4 linked regions of the Homo sapiens genome follow. The protein of the gene in region 2 purifies or fractionates together with the protein of the main gene of each other region. This does not show direct contact. Each region holds a gene or a part of one and is shown on either strand. Other genes may lie near its edges.

The links.
Region 1: the proteins of TPX2 (region 2) and ARGLU1 purify together in Homo sapiens (affinity purification with mass spectrometry; one large-scale study listed by BioGRID and IntAct). This does not show direct contact.
Region 3: the proteins of TPX2 (region 2) and ZC3H4 purify together in Homo sapiens (affinity purification with mass spectrometry; one large-scale study listed by BioGRID and IntAct). This does not show direct contact.
Region 4: the proteins of TPX2 (region 2) and TRIP12 purify together in Homo sapiens (affinity purification with mass spectrometry; one large-scale study listed by BioGRID and IntAct). This does not show direct contact.

Annotation. Positions count from the first base shown.
Region 1 is NC_000013.11:106,541,173-106,544,137, reverse strand, and holds the end of ARGLU1 (arginine and glutamate-rich protein 1), read left to right. Parts: coding exon 1-142; 3' UTR 143-2,465; downstream 2,466-2,965. UniProt on the Homo sapiens protein: Dual function regulator of gene expression; regulator of transcription and modulator of alternative splicing. General coactivator of nuclear receptor-induced gene expression, including genes activated by the glucocorticoid receptor NR3C1.
Region 2 is NC_000020.11:31,794,790-31,798,289, reverse strand, and holds part of TPX2 (targeting protein for Xklp2), read right to left. Parts: intron 887-3,500; coding exon 775-886; intron 1-774. UniProt on the Homo sapiens protein: Spindle assembly factor required for normal assembly of mitotic spindles. Required for normal assembly of microtubules during apoptosis. Required for chromatin and/or kinetochore dependent microtubule nucleation.
Region 3 is NC_000019.10:47,072,277-47,075,776, forward strand, and holds part of ZC3H4 (zinc finger CCCH domain-containing protein 4), read right to left. Parts: intron 438-3,500; coding exon 76-437; intron 1-75. UniProt on the Homo sapiens protein: RNA-binding protein that suppresses transcription of long non-coding RNAs (lncRNAs). LncRNAs are defined as transcripts more than 200 nucleotides that are not translated into protein.
Region 4 is NC_000002.12:229,793,010-229,796,509, forward strand, and holds part of TRIP12 (E3 ubiquitin-protein ligase TRIP12), read right to left. Parts: intron 2,322-3,500; coding exon 2,170-2,321; intron 137-2,169; coding exon 1-136. UniProt on the Homo sapiens protein: E3 ubiquitin-protein ligase involved in ubiquitin fusion degradation (UFD) pathway and regulation of DNA repair.

The DNA of each region.
Region 1 (2,965 bases), on a different chromosome or scaffold from region 2:
TGAAGAACAAAGAAAGATTCATGAGGAAAGGATGAAACTAGAACAAGAACGACAACGTCAACAAAAAGAAGAACAAAAAATTATCCTGGGCAAGGGGAAGTCCAGGCCAAAACTGTCCTTCTCATTAAAAACCCAGGATTAAATTGCAAACTCTGAACTTTTTACAAAGAAAAATGGAAAAACTTTGTATGGTAGCTTCATGTTGAAGTGGTTTTTTGTTTTTGTTTTTGTTTTTTTAATTTGTAAAATCTGGAAAGTTAGCTTGTTCTAATAGGGGCTATGCTCTGCAATTCCCTTTTTTTTTTTTTTTTTCCTTCCACTAAGTCAAATCCTTATCAGATCATTGTTGTATTCTAAGGAGTGACGTATTTTTCACCTGTTTGGATTCTATATTAGTGGTCTGAGGAAGAGCAGATCACATTGTAAAACTATGGATGGTCTGATAAGGCTTTTACTGACCCCACTGACTTCAGAGTTATACTCTGTTTGCTACATCATAATGCTGGTTTTGCTGACTTTTTGTTTTTTTATATATTTATAAAAAAAGAAAAAGTTGGTGATTGCATTGGGAAATTCCCAGGGTATTACTGGACCTATGTGGTGTATTGTTAAACCAGTGTCCTTGTGATACTGTTGCTCTTGATGTTCCTGATACAGGTAAGGAAACAGTTGGTCAACTCTGATACAAAGTATATATACAGTTCAGTATTGTCTCTGTTCATTTTGTTTTTATTTCATTGACAAAATCAAACCAGCATTCCCCATTGTGTAAATAAATGATTTTGCTGAATAAAGTAAAGTCTTAAATTCATATGTTGAAGCAATTTTTTTTAATGTTATGTTAAGTCTTAAAGAGGGTGGTTCACTTTTTGATGGTCAACCATTTAGAAGTCTTAGAACTATATTTCCTCTTGTTTATACTTTTAACATAGGGTTTATATGTACATTAAATATACTTGTGAATTAGTATTTAATGGCTATTTTTACAAATATCAACTTTATGCTGATAGAGCAAATGGCATCAGTGTTACCTTTAAGAAAGACTAACAACATCCAGAAGATTTAAATTCTCAAACCTGTGCCTCTGTTTTAGGATATAAGTATTATCACAAAGTATACTTAATAAAGGCTAGAAAAATGCTTTTAAATTATGGAATCTGAGATCGTTTTCAGAGTGGGCCATCAGAAAGAACTTAGCTTTATACTGTCAAAAAAAGGCTAAGATGGTCGAGTCATTTTCATTGTGTAGTGTACTTGCACGTTTATTTTTAGGACAAACACATTTGAACTTTATGAATTTTTTTTTTTTTTTTGCATGTGAAATCTTATGAATGGCTTTCATTTTATACACTAGAATCTGCCTCATTTACTCTTAACATATGTTTAAGTATACTGGTATTAAAACATTCAAGAAAAGGATATTGATCTAAAATGCTACCTGAGATGCATAAACATGTCATCAAGTAGAGAAAATATTTTTATTTTTGCCCAATATTTTTTAGACAGTTTGATTATTCTTAAAAATTGAAAACATAAGCTAAAGAGATGACTAAATGGTAGATTATTTTGTGTGTGCATGCTAGGAAAAATGCTGTTGCTTTAGTTTTGAGCTCTTCAATGAGTCTAATTGTGGTAAGGAACAATATAAAATCAGTTTAAAGATCTTTAAAGGTAGAATTTTAAATAGGCATGAAATATAGTGAGAACTTTTAGTAAACATACTACTTACTCTAAAATCAAACATTTTATTTTCCTAAAGAATATAGGTTGCCAAAAAATATTTTATCTCTAAATATAGGTTAGCTGTAATTATTTCATGAATTTTTTTTTTTTTCAATGTAACTTTTTTTGGTGAAGATTCATGGTTCCTAAGTTCTGTATTCAAGTTTTTGGAAATGTTTATTTAAAAACTGTTCTATACAAGTGTTCAAAACATTGTATCTAAAGAGAGTAGCCTGGACTTAAAATATTTGAAATCAGCTTATGCGTGCCTTTTAATTTTTTTTTTAAGTTTCTTACTGCCACATATGGTGTGAAGTGACAGTAAGTTGCTTAATGACATCCTGCAGTATCTGCTTGCTTTTGGAGACTCCAGTGAGATGTTGAAATTGTTCCTGTGCTTGGTAACTACTTTCCTCTGCCAGGCTATGGGAAAGAGGATGTAATTGTGAATAATATACACCATCCAGTCTTTAATGTGCTGCAACAATGTAGTAATTTGTTTTTTTCATTTGTTCCCACTGCCTTTGTGTACATAGAAAACTTAAAAATTTCCCCCAGTCTATTAGAAGTTAAGATGTTCCCTAATTTATTAAATATGCCTTTATTCACAATTTGTTTTTTTAGGTTATTCTTAATGCATTATAGAATTAAGTATGACTTTGTTTATTTTTATTACAGTATGTAGTTATTGACATATTGTGGTTTGCAGAATTATCAATTGTATAAACTAAACCTTTAAATTAGCTTGGTGTGAGGACTCTTTAATGCTTTAAATTGGGGAAGGGGTTTGTAGTATGAGATTTTACCTACTTCAGTTTCCCTTATGAAGATGCAGCAAATCAGACTATTTCTACCCTAAGTAATCTCCGTATTCATTTACTGTGCTAGTATGTGTCCATAGCTTTTTTTTTTTTTTTTTTGTATCACCACCTGTCCTGGATTTAGCAGTATCTTAAGAATTTTCAGTGGTTTGTATTTTTTCAATTTTCTAAGTATAGTAAGCGTAGAATCCTGACTTGTTGAACTCTATGTATCATTTCTAATGCCTCATTTTATGAGGAGCCTGTCACTTCACTGACATTTCTCCAAAGCTATTTCTATCCATTAGAGCGTCTCTTTTCAGTTGTCTAAATTTTCTGCATCTTTACACGCAAAACCATTCATCTGTTTTGTATTAATGGCCATGAGAAATACTGAAGACAGGCTATCCTAATTTTTGAGGCTCTCCTCCCCCTCCAGGAGA
Region 2 (3,500 bases):
TGGCACAGACATGCACACTAACAGGAAGACTGTGCTCTAAACAAGCCCCATTGGGAGAAAGGTAGAGCCAACTAAATACAAAAAGTTTTAGAATTTTAAGAGTTCAAAGGGCCCCTGGAAATCGTCTGGTGTAATTGGGAAAAAGGCAAAGACATAAAGTAGCTTGCACAAAACTATATAGTGATTGATTTTGAGGCAGACATAGAAGAAAGATCCCAATATTCTTTTTTTCCCTTTTTGGAAAGATTTTTTTGAAAAAGAGATGGGGTCTTGCTATGTTGCCCATGCTGGTCTCAAATCCCTGGGCTCAAGTGATCCTCCTGTCCGGGCCTCCCAAAGTGCTGGGACTACAGGCATGAGCCACCACACCCGGTGGAATCCCAGTATTCTAGCACACTGCCCAGTGTTTAAGGAATCAAATGTTTTATATCTAAAGTTTGCTTCAGGGTGAATTCCAGAAAGCCATACTGGCTCTCCCTCCCTCATTTACTTGTTTCTCTGTGGATGGGGAAAACCTATCATTGTTGTTGAAATGCCAGCTGCTTCTGCCAAGGTTCATGTTAAATGAATCTGGCCCTAACACATCCTGCAACTCAACATAGCTGCTGGGTTCAATAAAGGCAAAAAACTGGGTCTAGGGGAAGAAAAGCTACCATCTGCTAAAGTCAAATGCTTCTAGTTGACACAGCATTGTACTGACACACTGAATTCCAGCATCCCACTGGGAAGTCTGACAATTCTGCCCGAGTCCCATCAGAGTACATATAATACTACCAGCAACTGATTTCTTCTCTTTCTTGGGAACAAAGGGCTCCTGAGAGATGACGGTGTTTGGACGAGCCTTGAAACAAGCTGCTTCTTTCTGCTGTCTCAGTTCTTCTTCCAGCTATTAGAGAGAAAGTCAGTCAGATGAGCAATGTCTCACCTTTCTATGACCACTACCTCAATAACTTAAGTTCTAATGTCTGAACTGCTTCATCAATAAAAATAGCAGATTTAATATAAACCCTAGTAAAAATCTTTCACACAAACTTTACAATGAACAGATCAGTCTGACAACATTTGAACTCACTGAGAACTAGAAAGCATTTTTAAGATACTTTTAAGATTCCCAAGTTTGCATTTTCGACATTAAAGTTTACTTTTTTTTTTCTTTTTAGTTTATGTTCACATTTATTTTTCTTATTATTATACTTTAAGTTTTAGGGTACATGTGCACAATGTGCAGGTTTGTTACATATGTATACATGTGCCATGTTGGTGTGCTAAAGTTTACTTTTAAATTAAAAAAAAAAAGATTCCAAACACAAAGAAATGATAAATGTTTGAGATTATGGATATGCTAATTACCCTGATCAGATCATTACACATTATACATATTGAAACATCACTATGTACCCCAAGAATATGTACAACTATTATTTGTCAATTAAAAAAAACAAAAAATTTTAAAGGTACTTTTAAGACCTATCTTTATATCATAAAAATAAACAACTAGACATTTTCTGCCTTCACACATGATTCATTAGGAACTATACAGTATCACCTATAAAGTATTCTTCCCACCTCCAAAAAAAAAAAAAAATCTAACCAGAATTGAATCAAGCCTCCAGATCTTACTACTCATTTATAGGAAATACAAGCAACAGAGGAACATGTTAGACAACTGTGTGGGAACGCAATCAGCAAAATCCAGATTGTGGAAAATCTACAGTACAAACAATCCAGTTTATTCAACAAATAAAATGCAAAGAGAGGAGCCTATAGATTGAAAGAAGATTCGGAGATTTAGCAAACAAAGGCACTATGTAGACTATATATGGATATTGATTTTAACAATTCAACTGTTTAAAAAATTATGAGAAATGTGCAGATATTTGATTATTTTTAATCTTTTTAAGTGTGAGAATATTATTGTGGTTATAAGTCTTTATATTTTAAATATATACACTGAAGTATTTTTGGATGAAAAGGGATGTTACATAGAATTTGTTTCAAAGTAATCTTACACAGGTAGAAGTATCCAGTGTAAGATAAGTGGGTAGAAGTTGGGATGAAACAAGACTTTTCATGTTTTGATCACTATAGAACCAGGTGATGGGTTCATGAAAATTCATTATACTATTCACCCTACTTTTATATTTCTGAAAAGCTTTTTAAAACAATTGTTTTTGTTGTTGTTCTTTGCAGAAAATGCCCTACACAGACATTCTGTGTCTTGGTCATTGAGAGGGGAAAATTCACTATTTCCAAGGCAACAGTCCTAAGGTTTCTTAGAGAACCACACTAACAGGGGACCAACGTTCAGTCATGTAAGCCATTACAACTCTCGGGCTTCAGGAGGGGTAATTCCTACAAACAAACAATAGCCTAGAGCTCCTTTTGGAAAGAATCCAAGATTAATGATGACATAAAAATCCAAAAAACTTAGAAATTCAGGGGAAATTTTTTCCAGCCACGTAGAATTAGATCCCAATTAAATCAGCAAATAACCAATTAATTGTTTTAAATCACCTGTCATTTATAAAGAGCAAATAGCACATCATGCTGAGAAAACAGCATTGTATATTTCAATCTATTCTCCCATACTGTTTCTTACCAATGCATCAACAGAAAGGAATAAACACAATGAATGAGTCTAATAGATGGAATAGATAAGATCTTAAAGAAACTCCCAACTCCAGAAAAGCCTGTCGGTTCCCACATTCCCCGGGTGATCACTTGGAGCAGGGGACATTCCCAGGTGATCACTTAGAGCAGGGGTCAGCAAACTCTGGCCTACAGGCCAAATCCAGCTTGCAACCTGTTTTAGGACAGCGCTTGAGCTAAGAATGGTTTTTACATTTTTAAAGAGTTGATTGGGCACAGCAGCTCATGCTTGTAATCCCAGCACTTTGGGAGGCCACGGTGGGCAGATCACTTGAGATCAGGAGTTTGAGACCAGCCTGGCCAACATGGCAAAACCTTGTCTCTACTAAAAACACAAAAATTAGCTGGGCGTGGTGGCACGCGCCTGTAATCCCAGCTACTCGGGAGGCTGAGGTGGGAGAATCACTTGAACCTGGGAGACGGAGGTTGCAGTGAGCCGAGATCGCACTACTGCACTCCAGCCTGGGTGACAGAGCGACACTCTGTCTCAAACCAAACAAAAAAAGAGTTGAAAACATGTAGCTGGGTGTGGTGGCTCACACCTGTAATCCCAGCACTTCGGGAAGCCGAGGCGGACAGATCACGAGGTCAGGAAATTGAGACCATCCTGGCTAACACGGTGAAACCCCATCCCTACTAAAAATATAAAAAAATTAGCCAGGCTTGGTGGTGGGCGTCTGTAGTCCCAGCTACTCAGGAGGCTGAGGCAGGAGACTGGCGTGAACCCAGGAGGCGGAGCTTGCAGTGAGCCGAGATTGTGCCACTGCACTCCAGCCTGGGCAACACAGCAAGGCTCTGTCTCAAAAAACAACAACAACAACAACAAAATGTGTGCGTACACACACACATAC
Region 3 (3,500 bases), on a different chromosome or scaffold from region 2:
CTTGCCCTAACAAGAGGAGCCTGGCTGGGCCCAGGACAGCGCCCACTGCCTGTCACGGGGGTCCAGGGCACTCACCTCACACCCAGCTTCTCAGCCAGCTGTCCCGTGGGCCGCACCACGATCTCAAACAAGGAGGGGATCTTCTTGTTGTACATGTCCTGCTGCTGCAGCTGCTGCGGGGACAGTGGCTCATGCACCGGCATGGGCATCTGAGGGGGCCCGGGCGGTGGGGGAGGGGGAGGGGGCGGGGGCGGGGGGCCACCCTGCATGGGCCTGCCGTTGGGAGAGGTTGGAGCCTGCGGGCCAGGGGGCCGAGGAGGGGTGGGCAGGAGGCCCACACCAGGGGGCGGTTTGGGCAGGGGGTTGATGCCCTGCTTCTTCAGTTCCTCCACCTCCTTCTCATCCTCGGCACCTGCTTCTGCATCATCGGCCAACATCTGCGGGTGTGAAAGAACAAAAGAAGGTGTGGACGGGGTCAGGATGGAAACGGACCTCTCCAGGTCTGAGAGCTGAAGTTTATGAGGAAAAGTCCATAATACAAGGACCTTGAGATCTAAAGGCATAAAGACCACAATGGCTCTGTAACAAAAATCATCATCAGCCACCTCTCTGCTCCACTCTCGGGGACCAGCTGGTAGAGGGGGGGCCATTCCTGCTCTATGGCAAAATACACATAACAAAGCATACTGTTTAACCATTTAAAGTGAACGATTCAGCTGGGCGCAGGGACTCACATCTGTAATCCCAGCACTTTGGGAGGCCGAGGTGGGTGGATCACTTGAGGCCAGGAGTTCAAGACCAGTCTGGCCAACATGGCAAAACCCCATCTCTACTAAAAATACAAAAATTAGCCAGGCATGGTAGTGCACGCCTGTAGTCTCAGCTACTCGGGAGGCTGAAGCAGGAGAATCACTTGAACATGGGAGGCAGAAGCTGCAGTGAGCCAAGATCGCACCACTGCACCCCAGCATGGACAACAGAGGAGACTCTGTCTCAAAAATAAATAAATAATGCCAGACGTGGTGGCTCATGCTTGTAATCCCAGCACTTTGGCAGGCTGAGGTGGGCAGATCACCTGAGGTCAGGAGTTTGAGGCCAGCCTGGCCAACATGGTGAAACCCCATCTCTACTAAAAATACAAAAAAAATAGCCGGGCATGGTGGTGGGCACCTGTAATCCCAGCTACTCAGGAGGCTGAGGCAGAAGAATCGCTTGAACCTGGGAGGCGGAGGTTCCAGTGAGCCGAGATCACACTACTGCACTCCAGCCTGAGCGACAGAGCCAGACTCCATCTCAAAAAACAAAAACAAAACAAAGTGAACGATGCAGTGGCATTTGGCACATTAACAATGTTATGTAACCGCCACCTCTATATAGTTCCAGCACATTTTCATCACCCCCAAAAGAGACCCTGTACACACTAAGCAATCGCTCCCCACCCTCTACCCCCAGCCCCCGGCAGCCACTCTGCTTTCCGTCTCTGCGGACCTGCCCCTGCTGGACAGCTCCTGCGAACAGACTCATGCGCTGTGTGCGATGGGCGCTTTCACTTAGCAAAGTGCATCTATCTACAACACTGCTACATCTATCAGTATGTCACTCTGTTTTTTATGGCTGAATCATATTCCCCTGTCATGTTTGGATTTTAAGGGCCTCTGATCTCAACTCCTGACCATGACCCTTAGGGCCTAAGAGCAGGGGTGGGTGTCTGGGTGTCTAGGTATCTGGGGACGACTGGGTAGCTTCCTGGCAGCTTCATTTCCTCCCACGATCCCGACTCCTCCACCCCAACCACCCAGCCTCGTTTCAGTGCAATGAGCAGCCAAGCTCTCCCCTACAGGGCCAGGACCAGCTTCCCCCAGGTTTTTATTTTTCCTGTTATTCCCATGTGGCTCAACGTCACTCAACTGTTGAGGTCCCTCATTAGATGTCAATTCATAGTGTCTGTCCAGTCTCCTGTATTCACTACTGGGTCACCAGGAGTTCTCTGCCAACACTGCCTATGCCTTGTCGGATTATTCAGTCATTCCCATGTTCATCCTGGCTCAACCTCCCCATCAACTCCAAGAGGGCAGGACTGTTTCTTCCCTGCTATATCCCCAGGGCCCCCACGAGACCTGATACAGGGCAGACGCCCAGTGAGTGAATGAGAAATGTCAAAATCTCAACTGGACTAGAATGTCTCATCAGTTAGGATAGCGTGCAGAAAAGTGACACAGGAGGCCTGGCTGCTCTCCTTGGAAGGCCTGCTTGCAAGGCTAGGCCTCGGCTGGTGTCTGGGAAGCTGCATTTTGGGAGGGCTCCCAGCATTCACTGTCCAGTAAGAGGGGCTCACTGCATCTAAACTGTTTCTGCAACCAATGCAGTTTGTGCTGAATGCCTGCTTTGCCCCCCAAATCTGGAATTTTGGTCCATGCTGGGCAGAGGCTGCCTAGGTGAGCAGCCTAGTGAAAACCCTGGGCGCTGAGCAAGTCTCCTCGCAGACAGCATGCCACTCGTGCTGTCACAACTGGAGGAGGGCAGCGTGGCCCCTGCGAGTCCACAGGAAGAGGATGCGCCTGCTTCCTCCAGGCGCCCTCATGTACTCATTCCCAGGGCTGAGTTTGCCTGTGTCCCTTCACCGCAGTTAACATCTTGGCCGTGAGTCCCCCAGCAAGTTGCTCTGGGTCATCTTGGGGACCCCAGCACAGATCCCTTAGTTGGTCCTAACACAGGGTCATCAAGATAAACTAGTCCTGCCCCTCTGCCCAGGAACAGCAAGGCGGACAGAAACAGGACCCCCTGGTGGGGGTTGTGCATTCGCAGTTTTCCCTTCTCCTAGCCATTAGCAATGGTATCTGGACCCTGGAACCCCAGGGTCCAATAAGAATGTGGCTTCATGGAGGAGGTGTGGAAAACGACGCGGTGGAACCCCTCTGTCCTTCTGAACCCTGATATTCCAGGGGTGGTCAGCGTGTGAACCAGCAGCACAGGGGGACCCGTGGAGGCAGAACCCGCATTCTGCCCTTTGAGCGTGGGCACCACCACCTGAGATGAGCCTTGCTGGGAGGGCCCAGAGCCTTGCGCCAGCTGCTTTCAACACTGCCACGGGCTCACTTCCTCCTGGCCCAAGGGCCCTTCCTCAACTGTGTGTGGGGCCATGGCTTGCGCTGCAGCTGCCACCCTGCATCTCCCTCCTCCTCCTCCTCTTCAGTCCCCACTGCCGCACATCCTGGGGCCGCCAGTGTCACCTCCTCACAAAGCCTCTTGAATGTCTGCCTCCTGAATAGAGCCCAGCTAGAGTCCTGGGCTCCCACACTTATTCTTCACGGCCTGATCCCCACGTGTGTGTGCGCACACACACATACACACACACACTCACACTCCCCATGTGTCATCAGCATCCGCCCAAGGACCTAACCCTGCCTCCTCAGCACCCCCAGTGCCTGGCACAAACAAGGCACAGAGATTTATTGAGTGAACGACTAAGCAAGGAACACAAACCAATGCATTCCCTGGAA
Region 4 (3,500 bases), on a different chromosome or scaffold from region 2:
AGCCAGAGGGTCAATCTTGACAGGTCCACCCTTCCACTGCTTCACATTTGCACAGTCTGGATGCCTTTGTAACTGGCATTTTAATTGATGTGTGTTGAAAAATTTTAAAGCCTGTGATCCTCTGTTGAGAGAAAAGCTCAAGATAATTTGTGAAAAAAAAGTTAGTCTATTATTTTCACATTTAATATACATTAATTCAAATAAAGGCAAGTTAATACAAACTGCATTTTCATAAGACACACTAGTACTAAGCATTTACTTACCAGTTCTGTGAATGGTAAAGCCAATAATTCAAGTTATTTAGAAAAAATTTTTATACGTAAGAAATAAAAGACGGATGTGTATGCATGCATATGAAAACCTTAAGTCAATATTTGATCTCTGTCCCATCATAAATCCATGGGAGCAGAAATACTTCACCCATGAATATTTAATTATTTTTCTGGAACAAAAATTCCTGAACTATTTAAGCACACTCACTTCTGCAATATTTTGCCCATTCCTATTGAATTATATTTTTTAAAAAGAAAAAAAAAACTCTTTATTTCAAAGATTTCAGCTACAATATTACATTAAAAACTAACCTTTAAAATTTACCTTGCTATAATAGTTTTGAACGAAGCGGTTTAATAGCTACTGCAGTTGAAACCTGGTCATGATGTTTAATTGCTCATTTCAGAAAAGCTCTGGCAGGAGTCAGATACAAACTTAAACTGTGATTATCTGTATGATTCCACAAAGCAAGCTTGTCCAACCTGCGGCCCACAGGCCACATGCAGCCCAGATGGCTTTGTATATAGGCCAACATAAATTCGTAAACTTTCTTAAAATACAATGAGTGTTTTTTTTTTTTAAGCTCATCAACTAACATTAGTGTTGGTGTATTTTATGTGGCCCAAGACAATTCATCTTCCAATATAGCCCAGGGAAGCCAAAAGATTGGACCCTCCTGCACATAAAGCACACAAATAGGGATGTGGAGAATATTCCATTTTATGAATATATACATATGCAAACATATTTTATATAAATTTGGACACAAAAAGCTTCATGATTTTCTCAAGCACAGGTCAAAATGCCCCCTTATTTCATGAACTCCTCCAGGAAATCATAACGATCAAAACTGAATACCACACACTACATTAAATTTCAAAGCAGAAAAGAAACCCTAGTCCATGATGTGATTGCTTTATCACTCAAAAATGCATATGGTTTTTAATTCAAACAAAGTTTTTTAAATGTTTTTAAAACGTCAAAATGTGGATTTAAAAACCAAACTAGGCTGAGTGTGGTGGCTCAGAAATCCCAGCACTTTGGGAGGCCAAGGCAGGAGGATCACTTGGGCCCAAGAGTTTGAGACCAGCCTGGGCAACAAAGTGAGACCCCGTCTCTACAAAAAATAAAAAAATTAATGGAACATGGTGGCACATGCCTGTGGCCCCAGCTACGTGGCAGGCTGAGGCAGAAAGATCTCTTCAGCCAGGAGGTCAAGGCTGCAGTGAGCCATGTTCACACTAGTGTAATTTGGCTTGGGCAACAAAGTAAGACTCTGTCCCAAAATAAATAAATAAATAAATAAATAAATAAAAACCAAACAAATTTCCTATTTTCTAGGCCTCCGGTCAAAATATTCCATGAAACTTGTAACATTCCACAACATAGAACAATTCTTTCCTGTAGCACCTCAAGAGTCCTTAAAACTACATTAAAAATATATATATTTATTAAACTAGTAAAACTTCAAACATTTGACCCCATCAAAATACAAAGTTATAGCCACTAATATTACATATAAATCATATCGCTCAAAATGTAAACATTACTCACAGCCACAAAAAATTTTTTATCCCTACTGAAGTTAAACATAAAGTTCTTAAGGAAGTTTTGTATGCTGAAGTGTATCAATTTAAGGAAAACTAAGCCTATTACAAGTTACAAATACAATCACTGGATTATATATTTATAAAGCATCCTGTTTAAGGCATATGGTATAATTTTAAAGATAAGAAAGCATTTGATTCATTCTTTAGAGTGCTTAATTTCTTTCATCATTACAGCTGAATGTTTTCTGGGCCAATCAAGACTTTACCAGACCTCTTGCCATCTTACTTCAGTGAAATTAAGTACCAAATTCCAGTGGCAAGGGTATAGCCAGGCAATGGTCCTTACCTGCCTCCTGTCCCATTTCCACTAGGGAAATCATGTACTTTGACTGGAAATTGTTCCATCTGGCTGAGGCAGTTGTTCATCTTGTGAACTAATGCCAACAAAGGTGCATTACCCACTGGTTCCACTCTTCCAATGGGCTCTTCTCCAGGAAGCTAAAGTTATAAATAAACAAACAGGTTAAACAAAGCCTTTTCAAAACAAAAGTCTCCTCAAAGAGAAGATTTAATAAGCAGCTTTATAAAAGAGAATAATTTGTCTATTCATCTTTATCTTTTATGGCAGATTTGGTTTGAACGATGTTACCACGTCAATTATTTCAATAAAGACAACTGTTTTGTACAGCCCACAATCCTGTATTCACAATCTCTACATCCAAAGGCTCTGAAAACACAAGTCACTTGGTGGCAAAATCTGATCCAAACAGACATAAGGCTATTTACAGTCTTTATTTATCTGATTTTAGTAAGAATATTCATGTTATGCTATAAAAATATTTAATGCATATAATATACAGTGCTATTCAGAAACTGCTGGGAATTTTAATGTACTACACACTGTAGGACCTTTGAAACCGACCAAACTCCAGGGGTTTCAGAAAAGAGATTGCACATAATCTTAAGTATGCTGTAAAACTATACATAATACTGTCACGCTTCTAATGAATCTCCAATAAATACTAACTTTGCTTTAGGTTGACTCACAAGTTAAAATACAAGCAATGCTCAAATGCCTCTGAGGACTGCAAGCGCATGGTGAAATAGTGTTAATACATAGGAGAGCTATGCTAAGCCCTATTACACAGATAATAGGGAACGTTTCCAAGTGATGCCTTCTCTTTAAGCCACTGTAAAACAAGGAGAATGCTGTCAACAGCATCCAAGGATTACCCTCTTGCTCTGGCCCACTTAAGAGTGAAGGAAGGGGAGCCACTCTGTGGCTTTGTAATCCACATTATAAACGGTGACATAAATGGTCATTAAGCGCCCTTGATTGGAACTGTTACAACTGTATTTTATGTACAAAACAAGAAAATATAACTCCTCTATCTTATTATAGATGTCTGTTTCACTAAAAGGAACTAATACAAACTTCAATACATTTAAAAACAAATATTGCAAGTAAAATACATTCACAGGTGAGAGACTACTATTAATGGCTCATCCTGCAAGCAAAAAAGACTCAAGATACTTCAATCATAGAAATAGTGACATGGGCTTTGTTAAATCCCCATTTCATTGTTTTACTATTTACTTTGATATACAGAAGTTGAAGGATTCCAACTATGTGAAAACCTAGAAGTTTTCCCTCAATGTCTTGACCAAGACCTGCTG